Linked DNA regions of Homo sapiens: region 2 is linked to region 1. The links come from fine-mapping of genetic effects on gene expression. A gene starts in region 1. The other region holds a variant in brackets. All regions are shown on one strand. Distances are between the middles of the regions.

What was found.
Region 2: its variant is fine-mapped to the expression of PAQR4 in whole blood (INTERVAL, PIP above 0.99).

What each region holds. Positions count from the first base shown.
Region 1 is chr16:2,966,333-2,971,685 of GRCh38, forward strand. It overlaps PAQR4 (progestin and adipoQ receptor family member 4), which reads left to right and starts at 3,016. Exons shown (of 3, transcript NM_152341.5): 1 at 3,016-3,508; 2 at 4,825-5,046; 3 at 5,183-5,353. The coding sequence starts at 3,343. KREMEN2 (kringle containing transmembrane protein 2) reads left to right here. Exons shown (of 9, transcript NM_172229.3): 4 at 1-117; 5 at 310-463; 6 at 578-910; 7 at 988-1,113; 8 at 1,194-1,272; 9 at 1,478-2,048. The coding sequence ends at 1,688. RefSeq lists enhancers at 1,998-2,987, 2,441-2,520, 5,270-5,353 and silencers at 2,781-3,200, 3,231-3,400, 3,411-3,460, 3,491-3,610, 3,881-4,020.
Region 2 is chr16:2,992,855-2,998,207 of GRCh38, forward strand. It overlaps GREP1 (glycine rich extracellular protein 1), which reads left to right. Exons shown (of 29, transcript NM_001396456.1): 11 at 77-109; 12 at 1,844-1,873; 13 at 1,952-1,984; 14 at 2,073-2,108; 15 at 2,430-2,462; 16 at 2,765-2,800; 17 at 2,885-2,917; 18 at 3,642-3,677; 19 at 3,819-3,851; 20 at 4,199-4,231; 21 at 4,949-4,981. Among named protein-coding and RNA genes, the nearest start is that of GREP1, 7.3 kb to the left of the region's middle. RefSeq lists enhancers at 866-1,367, 2,687-3,659, 5,327-5,353. The variant G/A (reference allele first, on the strand shown) is at 2,472.

The DNA of each region.
Region 1 (5,353 bases):
TACCTGGGATGCTTTGTGGACTCAGGGGCACCCCCAGCCCTCAGCGGCCCCAGCGGCACCTCCACGAAGCTCACGGTCCAGGTGTGCCTACGCTTCTGCCGCATGAAGGGGTACCAGGTACTGCTCACGGGCCCAGACCAGTGACCCCTGACCTGGACCTAAAGACCACACTCAACTCCCAACACTCGGTTGCCAAACCCAGACACCGGTTTCTGAACCTCCAGCCCGATTCCCACCCCGACCCCAGGCCCCCACCACTTCACCCCTACCCCAGCCCCTGCCCTGGGGTCACCCAGTCTGTGCTCCCAGCTGGCGGGCGTGGAGGCCGGTTACGCCTGCTTCTGTGGCTCTGAAAGCGACCTGGCCCGGGGACGCCTGGCCCCCGCCACCGACTGTGACCAGATCTGTTTCGGCCACCCTGGACAGCTGTGTGGCGGCGATGGGCGGCTGGGCGTCTATGAAGGTGAGGAGTGGGCGGGGACCAGGGGCCTGGGCGGGCCTCGAGGTGGGGCCTGGCCGGGCAGGGGAGCCGCCGTGTCCTGGTCCTCAGGATGCTGACTGCCGGCCCCGCCCGCAGTGTCGGTGGGCTCCTGCCAGGGGAACTGGACAGCGCCTCAGGGCGTCATCTACTCCCCGGACTTCCCGGACGAGTACGGGCCGGACCGGAACTGCAGCTGGGCCCTGGGCCCGCCAGGCGCCGCGCTGGAGCTCACCTTCCGCCTCTTCGAGCTGGCCGACCCGCGCGACCGGCTGGAGCTGCGCGACGCGGCTTCGGGCAGCCTGCTCCGCGCCTTCGATGGCGCCCGCCCACCGCCGTCCGGGCCGCTGCGCCTGGGCACTGCCGCGCTGCTGCTCACCTTCCGAAGCGACGCGCGCGGCCACGCGCAAGGCTTCGCGCTCACCTACCGCGGTGAGCCTCAGCTCGGCGCGCCCTGCCCGCTGTTCCCACCCCGCTCTCCCCACCCCGCCTCACGCCCCTCTCCGCAGGGCTGCAGGACGCCGCTGAGGACCCAGAGGCCCCCGAGGGCTCGGCCCAGACCCCCGCGGCGCCCCTCGACGGGGCCAACGTGAGCTGCAGCCCCAGGCCTGGGGCTCCGCCGGCCGCGATTGGGGGTGAGGCGGGCGCGCGGGACGGGAGTGAGTCAGGGAGCCGCCCCCTCGCGCCCATCCTCACCGCAGCCGTGTGCCCGCAGCCCGGGTCTTCTCGACGGTGACGGCTGTCTCGGTGCTGCTGCTGCTGCTCCTGGGGCTGCTGCGTCCGCTGCGCCGACGGTGCGGGGCGCTGGGGCAGGGCCTGAGGGCGGACCGGTGGTGGGGAGCTGGAGCCCCAGAAGGGAACAGAGCTAGGAAGGAACTCCTGGGTTCTTAAGGGAGCGAGGCTTTGGGTCCACGCACAGGATCGCGCGCGGGATCGCAGGTAGAGCAGGACGCTGCAGCGGGATTGGACCGGCTCGGCTGATGTCTGCTCCCTCTCTAGGAGCTGTCTGCTGGCTCCGGGAAAAGGGCCCCCGGCGCTGGGGGCTTCCAGGGGCCCCAGGAGAAGCTGGGCTGTGTGGTACCAACAGCCCCGAGGGGTGGCCTTGCCCTGCTCCCCCGGGGACCCCCAGGCTGAGGGTTCTGCCGCGGGCTACCGGCCTCTGAGTGCCTCCAGCCAGAGCTCCCTGCGCTCGCTCATCTCCGCTCTCTGACTCTGGGCCCCGAGGGTCCGCTGGGCCCGCCGCCGGCGAGATGGACACCTGAGATGCTGTGCTGCGCCCTGCCTCGGCCTTGCGCCTGTGTAGGGGCAGCTCGGCCTCTGGTCGCCTTGGGGAGACCAAAAGTCGGACAGGAAACATCTGGTGCTATTATCTGGGACTTGGCCTGACCGTGGGGGTCCAGATGGTCCAGGCCCTCTCCATGGACCTGTATGTGGGGGTGGTCTCTGGTTTCGGAGGTCTTTGAACCCCTCTGGGGGTGGTCCTGGACTGCCGTCCTCAGTGAGAGGTCACAGGTCAGCAAAAACAGTCAAAAAACCCCCACAGATTTTGAATAAAGGATCTACTTTGGTACGGGCCTCGAAAGTTCTTCCGTGGTGGGAGGAGCATGTTAATGACCATACAAACGCCGAGGGTTGCGTGTGTCCATGCAAATGAAGGGCGTTGCACGCAGACTTTGGTGGAGCTGCCTGGAATGCAGAGAAGGACCTAGAACACAGACAGATGGGTGGGTGGGTGGAGTCCTGTAGAAGGCGGGGGGTGGAAGGGGAGGAGGATCGTGGGCAGCGTTATGCTGAATAAGGGGTGCCTTCCCGGTCCCTGCTCAGGGTGGACGGGGCGGAGGTCGACTTTGCTCCCCTGGCCTCCAATCTGTTTCCTGTCTATCCTCGGTAGGGCCCCGCAAGGGTGCTCCTTGTGGGCGATAACTGGGAGCAAGTTGGGCCGGGCCCACGCTCCGAGAAGCCTAGCGCGAAGGATAGGGCCTCTCCCGACGGCTGCGGGCGCGTGAGGCACGCCTTCAGAGGCCTGGGTACCGTGGAGCGCCTTGCTGCACTCGGGAGTCCAGCCTGCGGAAAGATCACTTTGGAGCGGGGGCGTACCGGATGTAGGCCGGACCCGTCCGGCAGCACCTTGGACAGAGCCCCGTCTGCAGGGTAGGGCTAGGTGGCAGGACTATGCCCCCGAGGGTGGGTGCCCAAAGGTACGGAGACCTGGGTGTCACGCGGAAAGCCCGGATGCACAGTTCTGAGGGACGCGAGGTGCCAGGGTCACTCTAGCGCAGCCCGCAGGACCCAGAACGTTGGGTCGCAAGCCCACAGCCACCCCATGCAAATGAGGCTGGGAGCGCGCACACTATGCTAGGAGGCGAGGCCTGGGCGGCCTCGGGGCGGAGCCTCCCCGCCGGCCACGCCCATTGGCTCTCGCTGCGCCGACGTCAGGAGCCCGGCGCGCGAAACGCTGGCCGGCCGGCGGGAACTAGGAGCCTGGGCGGAGCCTGGCGTCCCCTCCCGCGTCCGGCCGCGCCCGTCCTCCTGGCTGCAGAGAGACTACCGGCCACCGCCGCCGCCGCCGCCGCGAGCTGTCCCTGCGGCGCGTCTGCCTTGGCGGAGCCGACCGCAGTGCGCTCAGGCGTCCGGTGCGTCCCCAGCCTCCGCCCCGGCGCGGGGGCGACGGACTCGCGCGTGCGCAGCGCCGGAGGGGCGCGGGCTGGGACCCCCTAGCCAGCGCGTGCGCCGATCGAGCGCAGGGCGATGGGTGGGCGCCGGGCGCCGGGCGCCAGGCAGTGATGGGCCTTCCCGCGCTGCGGCCCCACTGAGGAGGAGGCTCGGGGACAGCAGGAGCACGGGCTGCCCGCGCGGTGCGGACCATGGCGTTCCTGGCCGGGCCGCGCCTGCTGGACTGGGCCAGCTCGCCGCCGCACCTGCAGTTCAATAAGTTCGTGCTGACCGGGTACCGGCCCGCCAGCAGCGGCTCGGGCTGCCTGCGCAGCCTCTTCTACCTGCACAACGAACTGGGCAACATCTACACGCACGGTGAGCCGCGTCCCGCAACGCGCTTCCCACACCCCCGGCCGCCCTACCTGCGTTGGGCCGGGGGCACTGAGGCCGAGGAGGGCCCCAGCGCCCAAGTCCAGGGCTGCCCCGGCCCTGGCACCGCCAGTAGCCGCGGTGACAAAGCTGCCATTGTCCCGGGCCGCGCTGCCAGCTTCCGTTTTCCCGGCGGGTGGGGGCCGGGTCAGGAGAGGGGAGCAGAGTAGGGTCTGAGCCTGCTTAATCCCTCTGAGCCCCAGGGGTAGGGAGCATGGTGTCCGGCCTCTGTAATCCCAGCGCCCTGGGAACCCCCTCCCGCCAGCACCCAGCCGGGAGATGGTGTTGACTGCGATGAGGAGGGCCCGGGAGGAGCCTCCCAGCGCCGCCGTCCTGACGCCCCCGCCCCAAGCCGCTCTGTCTTGGGGCTCCGCCTGGTGGCGGCTCCTTCTTCCCCCAACAGGCGTCCGGCCCCTCCTCCGCGCCCCGCGGAGCTCTGCTGACACAGCCCTGCCCGTCCTTGAGCTGCCCCAGGCGGGCAAGGGGCCCTGAGCGGCCTGGCCCAGCCTGGGTGCCTTTCCCGAGCTTTTGCCAGGCCACATTCTCACAAGGGTGGGCAGCCTTCGGAGCCCCGTTTGGCCCCTGGGAGGCCAGTACTAGAGGCCGGCAGGGAGGGGTGGAGACCTCCCAGAAAGGGCTAGGCTGGAATCAAACTCCCCAGGGAGAGGTCTGGGGAGATGGGACAAGCCCCTCGAAGCCCCCTTCCCTTCATTCTGGACTTGTCTTCCCCCACCTGGCCTCACCCCTTTATAGAAGATAAAAAGGCCCAGTGCCTCCATTTGTCTGGACACTTATGGAGAGGGGAGGACTTGGGTTGGGAAGAGCAAGCCAAGTGGCCCCGGGCTGGCATCACTGCTCATGTGTCCTCTTCACAACTCAACTTGAGGTTTCGCTGCCTTAGCCTTCTCCTGTGACCTGCTTGTATGGGGAGAGCAGTGTGGGAGTGGGACGGCCTAGGCCTGTCCTCTGCCATTGCTTACCTGCTGGGCTCACCCGGGGCCGGTCACTCAGCCCCTCCAAGTCTGTTTCCTCACCTGCAAAGTGGGGATCATGGTCTCTACTTCCCAGACCATCCTGAGCCATGATAAGTAACCAGTGCCAAAAGCCTTTTGCCCAGGGCCTGTCTCTGGCCAAGGCCAGGCCGCCAACTGGATGACAGCATTACCTGGACCTGTCTTGCCCTGTCCTGTGTTGTGTCTGAACCGTGGTCCCCTTGAGGATGTGACTGAAACTATCTGGTAGATGACTGTCTCCCTCCCTAGGGCTGGCCCTGCTGGGCTTCCTGGTGCTGGTGCCAATGACCATGCCCTGGGGTCAGCTGGGCAAGGATGGCTGGCTGGGAGGCACACATTGCGTGGCCTGCCTTGCACCCCCTGCAGGCTCCGTGCTCTATCACCTCTTTATGTGCCACCAAGGGGGCAGCGCTGTGTACGCCCGGCTCCTCGCCCTGGACATGTGTGGGGTCTGCCTTGTCAACACCCTTGGTGAGTCAGGGCCCAAGGGATGGGAGCTGGAGCCACCGGCGGGAGAGGCATGGGGCACGCATACAAGCCATGGGTAGGGAAGGGCGGGTGGACCCTCACAATGACATGCCCTCTCCTGTTCTCTCCTCTTGTGCAGGGGCCCTGCCCATCATCCACTGCACCCTGGCCTGCAGGCCCTGGCTGCGCCCGGCTGCCCTGGTGGGCTACACTGTGTTGTCGGGTGTGGCCGGCTGGCGTGCTCTCACCGCCCCCTCCACCAGTGCTCGGCTCCGGGCATTTGGATGGCAGGCTGCTGCCCGCCTACTGG
Region 2 (5,353 bases), 27 kb after region 1:
AGCGGGGAGCCTGGGGCTGAGATTCTGGGCACAGGCCCAGAGGAAAGGATCCCTCACCCTCTCATCTTCCCCCCAGGCTTTGGAGGGGGTGGAAAACCCCAGAAGCCAGGTGAGCCACTCCCTGTCCCTGTCTCCCTGCCCATTTCCTATGCATCTGCCGCTGCTTCCCTAGAGTCCCTGATCTCCCCATTCTCTTTGGCTCTGTCCCCTGGGATTTGGGAATAGGAATGGGTGGGGAGTCGGGGCCTTCCTGGGAGCTGGAACCCAGGCAGGTAAGGCCCTGGAGTTCTGGGAGCATGGAGGTCTTAGGGGTTGGGGGTTACTGATGTAGGGGCCTGGCCCTGGTCCTGAGCAGAGAGGAAGGGATGGGTGGACTCACAGGAAGTCCTTCCCCTTCTCTTCCCAGGCCTGGGAGGGGGACTAAAGGCTCAGAGAGCAGGCGAGCCCCAATCTCTAGCCTCCCAACTTGGTCTCACACAACAAACCTCATTCGACAAACCAATCCAGGCCTGGAGCAGTGGCTAACACCTGTAATCCCAACAGTTCGGGAGGCAGAGTTAGGTGGATCAATTGAGCCCAGGAGTTCAAGACCAGCCTGGGCAACATTCCCAAGCTGGTCTTGAAATCTTGGGCTCAAGCAATCCATCTACAAAAAAAAAAAACCTAGCCAGTTGTGGTGGCACGTGCCTGTAGTCCCAGCTACTCTGGAGGCTGAGAGGTGAGGATCACTTGAGCCCAGGAAGTCGAGGTAGTAGTGAGTGGAGATCTTGCCACTGTACTCCAGCCTGGGTGACAGAGAGAGATCCTGTTTAAAAAACAGACAGGCCGGGCTCAGTGGCTCACGCCTGTAATCCCAGCACTTTGGGAGGCTGAGGCGGGTGGATCACAAGGTCAGGAGATCAAGACCATCCCGGCTAACACAGTGAAACGCCGTCTCTACTGAAAATACAAAAAAATCAGTCGGGCGTGGTAGTGGGCACCTGTAATCCCAGCTACTCGGGAGGCTGAGGCAGGAGACTGGCGTGAACCCAGGAGGCGGAGCTTGCAGTGAGCCGATCGTGCCACTGCACTCCAGCCTGGGTGACAAAGCAAGACTCCGTCTCAAAAACAAACAAACAAACAAACAACAACCAAAGTAATCCGTGGACCATGCCTGTTCTGAGCCAACCAGGTGCTGGGGACAGGCCCTCCCCAACCAGGGCCACGCTGGGGCATACAGTATGGGCTGAGGCTGCCCCAGAGCTGGGCTCTGGGAGTTCTTAGGAGGCAGTGGAGGCCAGGGAGGAGAGAGTGGCCCAACCCTCTGAGAAACTGAACCAAAAGGAGAGTTTTGAACAAAGAAGGTACAGGCTCCAGCAAGATCTCAGACCTGGCCAGGCGCAGTGGCTCACGCCTGTAATCCCAGCACTTTGGGAGGCCTAGGCGGGCGGATCACTTGAGGTCAGGAGTTCAAAACCAGCCTGGCCAACATGGTGAAACTCCGTCTCTACTAAAAATGCTAAAAATTAGCCAGGCGTGGTGGCGGGCACCTGTAATCCCAGCTCCTCAGGAGACTGAGGCAGGAGAATTGCTTGAACCCGGGAGGCGGAGGTTGCAGTGAACCAAGATCACGCCATTGCTCTCCAGCCTGGGCAACAAGAGCGAGACTCCATCTCAAGAAAATAAAAAAAAGAGCTCAGACCCAAGATGTGGCAGGAGCTGGAGCTTGACAGTTGGAGGCTGCTGAGGAAAGGAACCTGCCTTTCTGGCTCGTTGAAGTTGGGGGTGGGGACACCCCTGCCCGAGGTGGCTGGAGATGGCATCCAGGGCTCCGGAGGGCCTTAACCCTTTCTCTCCTCCACAGGCCCCACCACTCAAAATGGCTATAGACCAGGTAGGGGCGGGGCTGGGGTTTGGGGAGGCCCAGAGCTGGGGCCCCAGGTTCCTCACCTGCTCCCTGTCTCTCCACCAGGCTATGTGGGGGCCGTCAAACCCCAGAAGCCAGGTGAGCCCTGCCCCGGCCTGTCCCTCTGCCTCCCCAAAACCTGAGCTCCCTCCCCTCATTCATACCCCGCCTTGATCTATTCCCCCAGGATTCCAGTACAGAATTGGGCTGGGAGCCCAGCCAGGTGAAGGGGGTACAGTCTGGGGTTCCAGGGTCTGCATCTGGGCGGCCTCTTCCTCCCAGGGGCGGGATTGGTGAATGATGGAGAGGGGTGACGGGGCGTCTCCAAGATCCTTGGCTTCTGGCTTGGCCCTGAAGGGGAACCATAGGCGCTGTGTCCCCAGCTTAGCTCAGCCCTCCCACCCCGACAAGCCCCCCACCTCAGAATGGCCCTGGAGCAGGTCCTGAGGGGGATGGGAGGAGCTGGGGTCCAGATGCTGGGGTTCTGGGGTGGATCTGAGTTGGGGGCTCCTAGGTACCTCATCTGCTCCCCATTTTCCCAAAGGCTTTAGAGGGGACATGAAGGCACAGGAGCCAGGTAAGCCTG[G/A]CTCTCCCGGGCTTCTGTCTCCCCAGTGTTCAGAGCCCCCTTCCCCCTCTCACCCCCACCTCCATCTGTCCCCCAGGATTAGGGAATGGGAATGGGCTGAGTGCTCAGCCAGGTGAGACAGATGGGGTCTGGGGTTCTACCCCTGGGGCGTCCTCTCCCTGCCTCCCTTCCCAGTCTCATGGGGGGCTGAGCTGGTGAATAACTGAAGGGCTGCTGGGAGGAAGCCTCCAGGATTCCCTTACCTCCACCTCAACCAAACCCCAAATCCCCACCCCACCCTCCTCTCCCCATAGTCTTGACAGCCCAGAACCGATTTGGATTTGGAGCAGGTAGGAGCAGGGGTGGGGAGGGGCTGGGGGAGAATGTGGGTGGGGCCCCTGAGTCACTCACCAGCCCCCCTATATCTCCTCCAGGCCTTGGAGGGAATGTGAAGCCTCTGAAGCCAGGTGAGCCCCGCCCGCCCTGGTCTGCCTCTCTATGCACGAACCCCTGAAGCCATAAGCACTCTACTCATGCTCCCTCCCTCTCCAGGATATGGGAAAAGGCTGAGAGCAGGGGCCTTCCCTGGGGCTGGAACCCAGCCAGGTGAGGACACCTGGGGTAGGAGCCCAGGCTTTTTTTTTTTGAGATGGAGTCTTGCTCTGTCGCCCAGGCTGGAGTGCAGTGGCGCAATCTCGGTTCACTGCAACCTCCACCTCCTGGGTTCAAACAATTCTCCTACCTCTGCCTCCCAAGTAGCTGGGATTACAGACACCCACCACCGCACCTGGCTAATTTTTGTATTTTTGGTAGAGACAGGATTTCACCATGTTGCTCAGGCTGGTCTCGAACTCCTGACCTCAGATGATCCACCTGCCTTGGCTTCCCAAAGTGCTGGGATGACAGGCGTGAGCCACCGCACCGGGCTGAGCCCAGGCTTCTTAGAGGGAAGGGGGAAGACAAAGATCGGGCCAGGGGGCCGGGAGGGCAGAGTGTGGGTCTGAATCCTGGGGAATTAAGTGCCACTGGCTGGCCGGATGTGGCTCTGCCTCTGTGTCTCTCTGTAGGCCTGGGAGGGGGAGCCAGGCCCCCTCCCAGGGCCCTGGGCCCCCGCCCTGTCTCTAGGGCTGCGTCCTCCTGACACCCCCTCCGAATGCCGCCGTCTCACACCCTCCCCGTCCCTCCCCCTAGAATATGGCCATGGAAATGGACCGGGAGTCCAGCCAGGTGAGGGCAGCTGGGCCTGGCTCGCGAGGGGTCGGGAGGTGGGACGGGAAGAGAGAAGCTGAGGCCACAGGGACAGAGAGCTGGGGTCTGGGGATCAGCAGCACTGGCTGGAGTTGATGTCAGCCTCTCTGTCTCTCCCAGGCCTAGGAGCGGGGATGAAGCCTCAGATGCCAGGTGAGGGGACTGCCTGTGTCTGTGGCCCCACCTCCCCTAGATCCTGGTGTTCTAGCTGGGTCTGCGTGGGACTCCCAGGGGAGGGGTGACCCCTGCCTCATGAGTGAGGGGAGGTCTGTAGGAGCACCGAGGACCGAGGGGAGAGGAGGTTGGGGAGAGACTGAGAGCCCCCTTCCTGGCCCCTGCCTCCCTGTCCCCCAGTGGCTCAGCCTTACCACGTTCCCTTTTTTGCCCCACAGGCCTGGGAGCTCCAAACGGCTATGGACCAGGAAGGGGCAGGGCTGGGGTTCCAGGAGGTCCAGAGCGGAGGCCTTGGGTCCCTCACTTGCTCCCTTTCTCTTCACCAGGCTATTTGGGGGTTATGAAGGCCCAGAAGCCAGGTGAGCCCTGCCCCGCCTGTCCCTCTGCCTCCCCCAAACCCTGAGCTCCCTCCCTCATTCATACCCCACCTCAGCTCCATCGGCATTCAGGAGGGGGCTGGGAGCCGAGCCAGTGAGGGGGTGTCGGGCTGATGTCCCTGTCTCCCTCCCAGGCCTCCAGAGCAGGTGGACACCAAAATGAGGGAGGAGAGGTGGCGCCAGGATCCCTGGTTTCTGACTTGGCTCTGAAAGGGGATCCAAAGGCCCTTCGCCCTCTCCTTAGCTAGAATCCCAAACCCCCTGCTCACCCCTCCCTCCCCACAGGCCCCTTAGCCCAGAATGGCTACAGAGCAGGTACTGGGGGGCTGGAGTTGCTGGGAGTGCAGAAAGGAGGAAAGAGGTGGGGGCCTGGCTCTCCCCTGACCCTGTACTGAGGGTTTTCTTGGGGGCTCCTGCAGCCTTAGACGGGGTAGAGTCTGGAGAGGAGGCGGCACAAGGGGGAGGGAGGTGCTGGGAGCTCCAGTTCCTAAATTGGGAGGAAAGGGGGGCCAGGCTCCAGCCCCCTTCTGTACCCCAACCTCTCCCCATGCCGCCCCCACAGACCCTGCAGTTCCCACTGGTCATGGACCAGGAAGGGGAGGTTGGCATGGGCACCAGGTGGGGGACAGATGCCAGGTCTGGAAGAGACCCCTCAGTGAGGAGTGGGCATGGGTCCCTCACCTACTCGCATCTCTCCAGGTGCTGGAGAGGGCATGAAACCTCAGAAGCCAGGTAAGCCCTTCCCACTCCTCACTCTCCCTACCTGCAGAAACTGCCTACCCCTCCACCCTTTTCCCCTCCCAAGCTGTACCCTGTCTCCCCATGGTGCAAGAACGGGCTGGAGCTGGAGCCTTCCTGTGGGAAGGAGCCCAGCCAGGTGAGGGAGGTGGGTGGGACCTGGAGCAGAGGGGAAGGAGGACAGGCTCCAACGGACAGAGTTGGGTCTCAGTGGGGGAAGGGGTGGGGTGGGGTGGGCCTGTCCATTATTCTCCATGGGTCTCTGGCCTGGGAGAGAGCCAGAAACCTCCAAAGCCGAGTTGCTCTCTGCCCCTCTTCCTGCCTTCTCCAAGGTCCCCCACTCCAACCCCGCCCTCATGCCCTGCT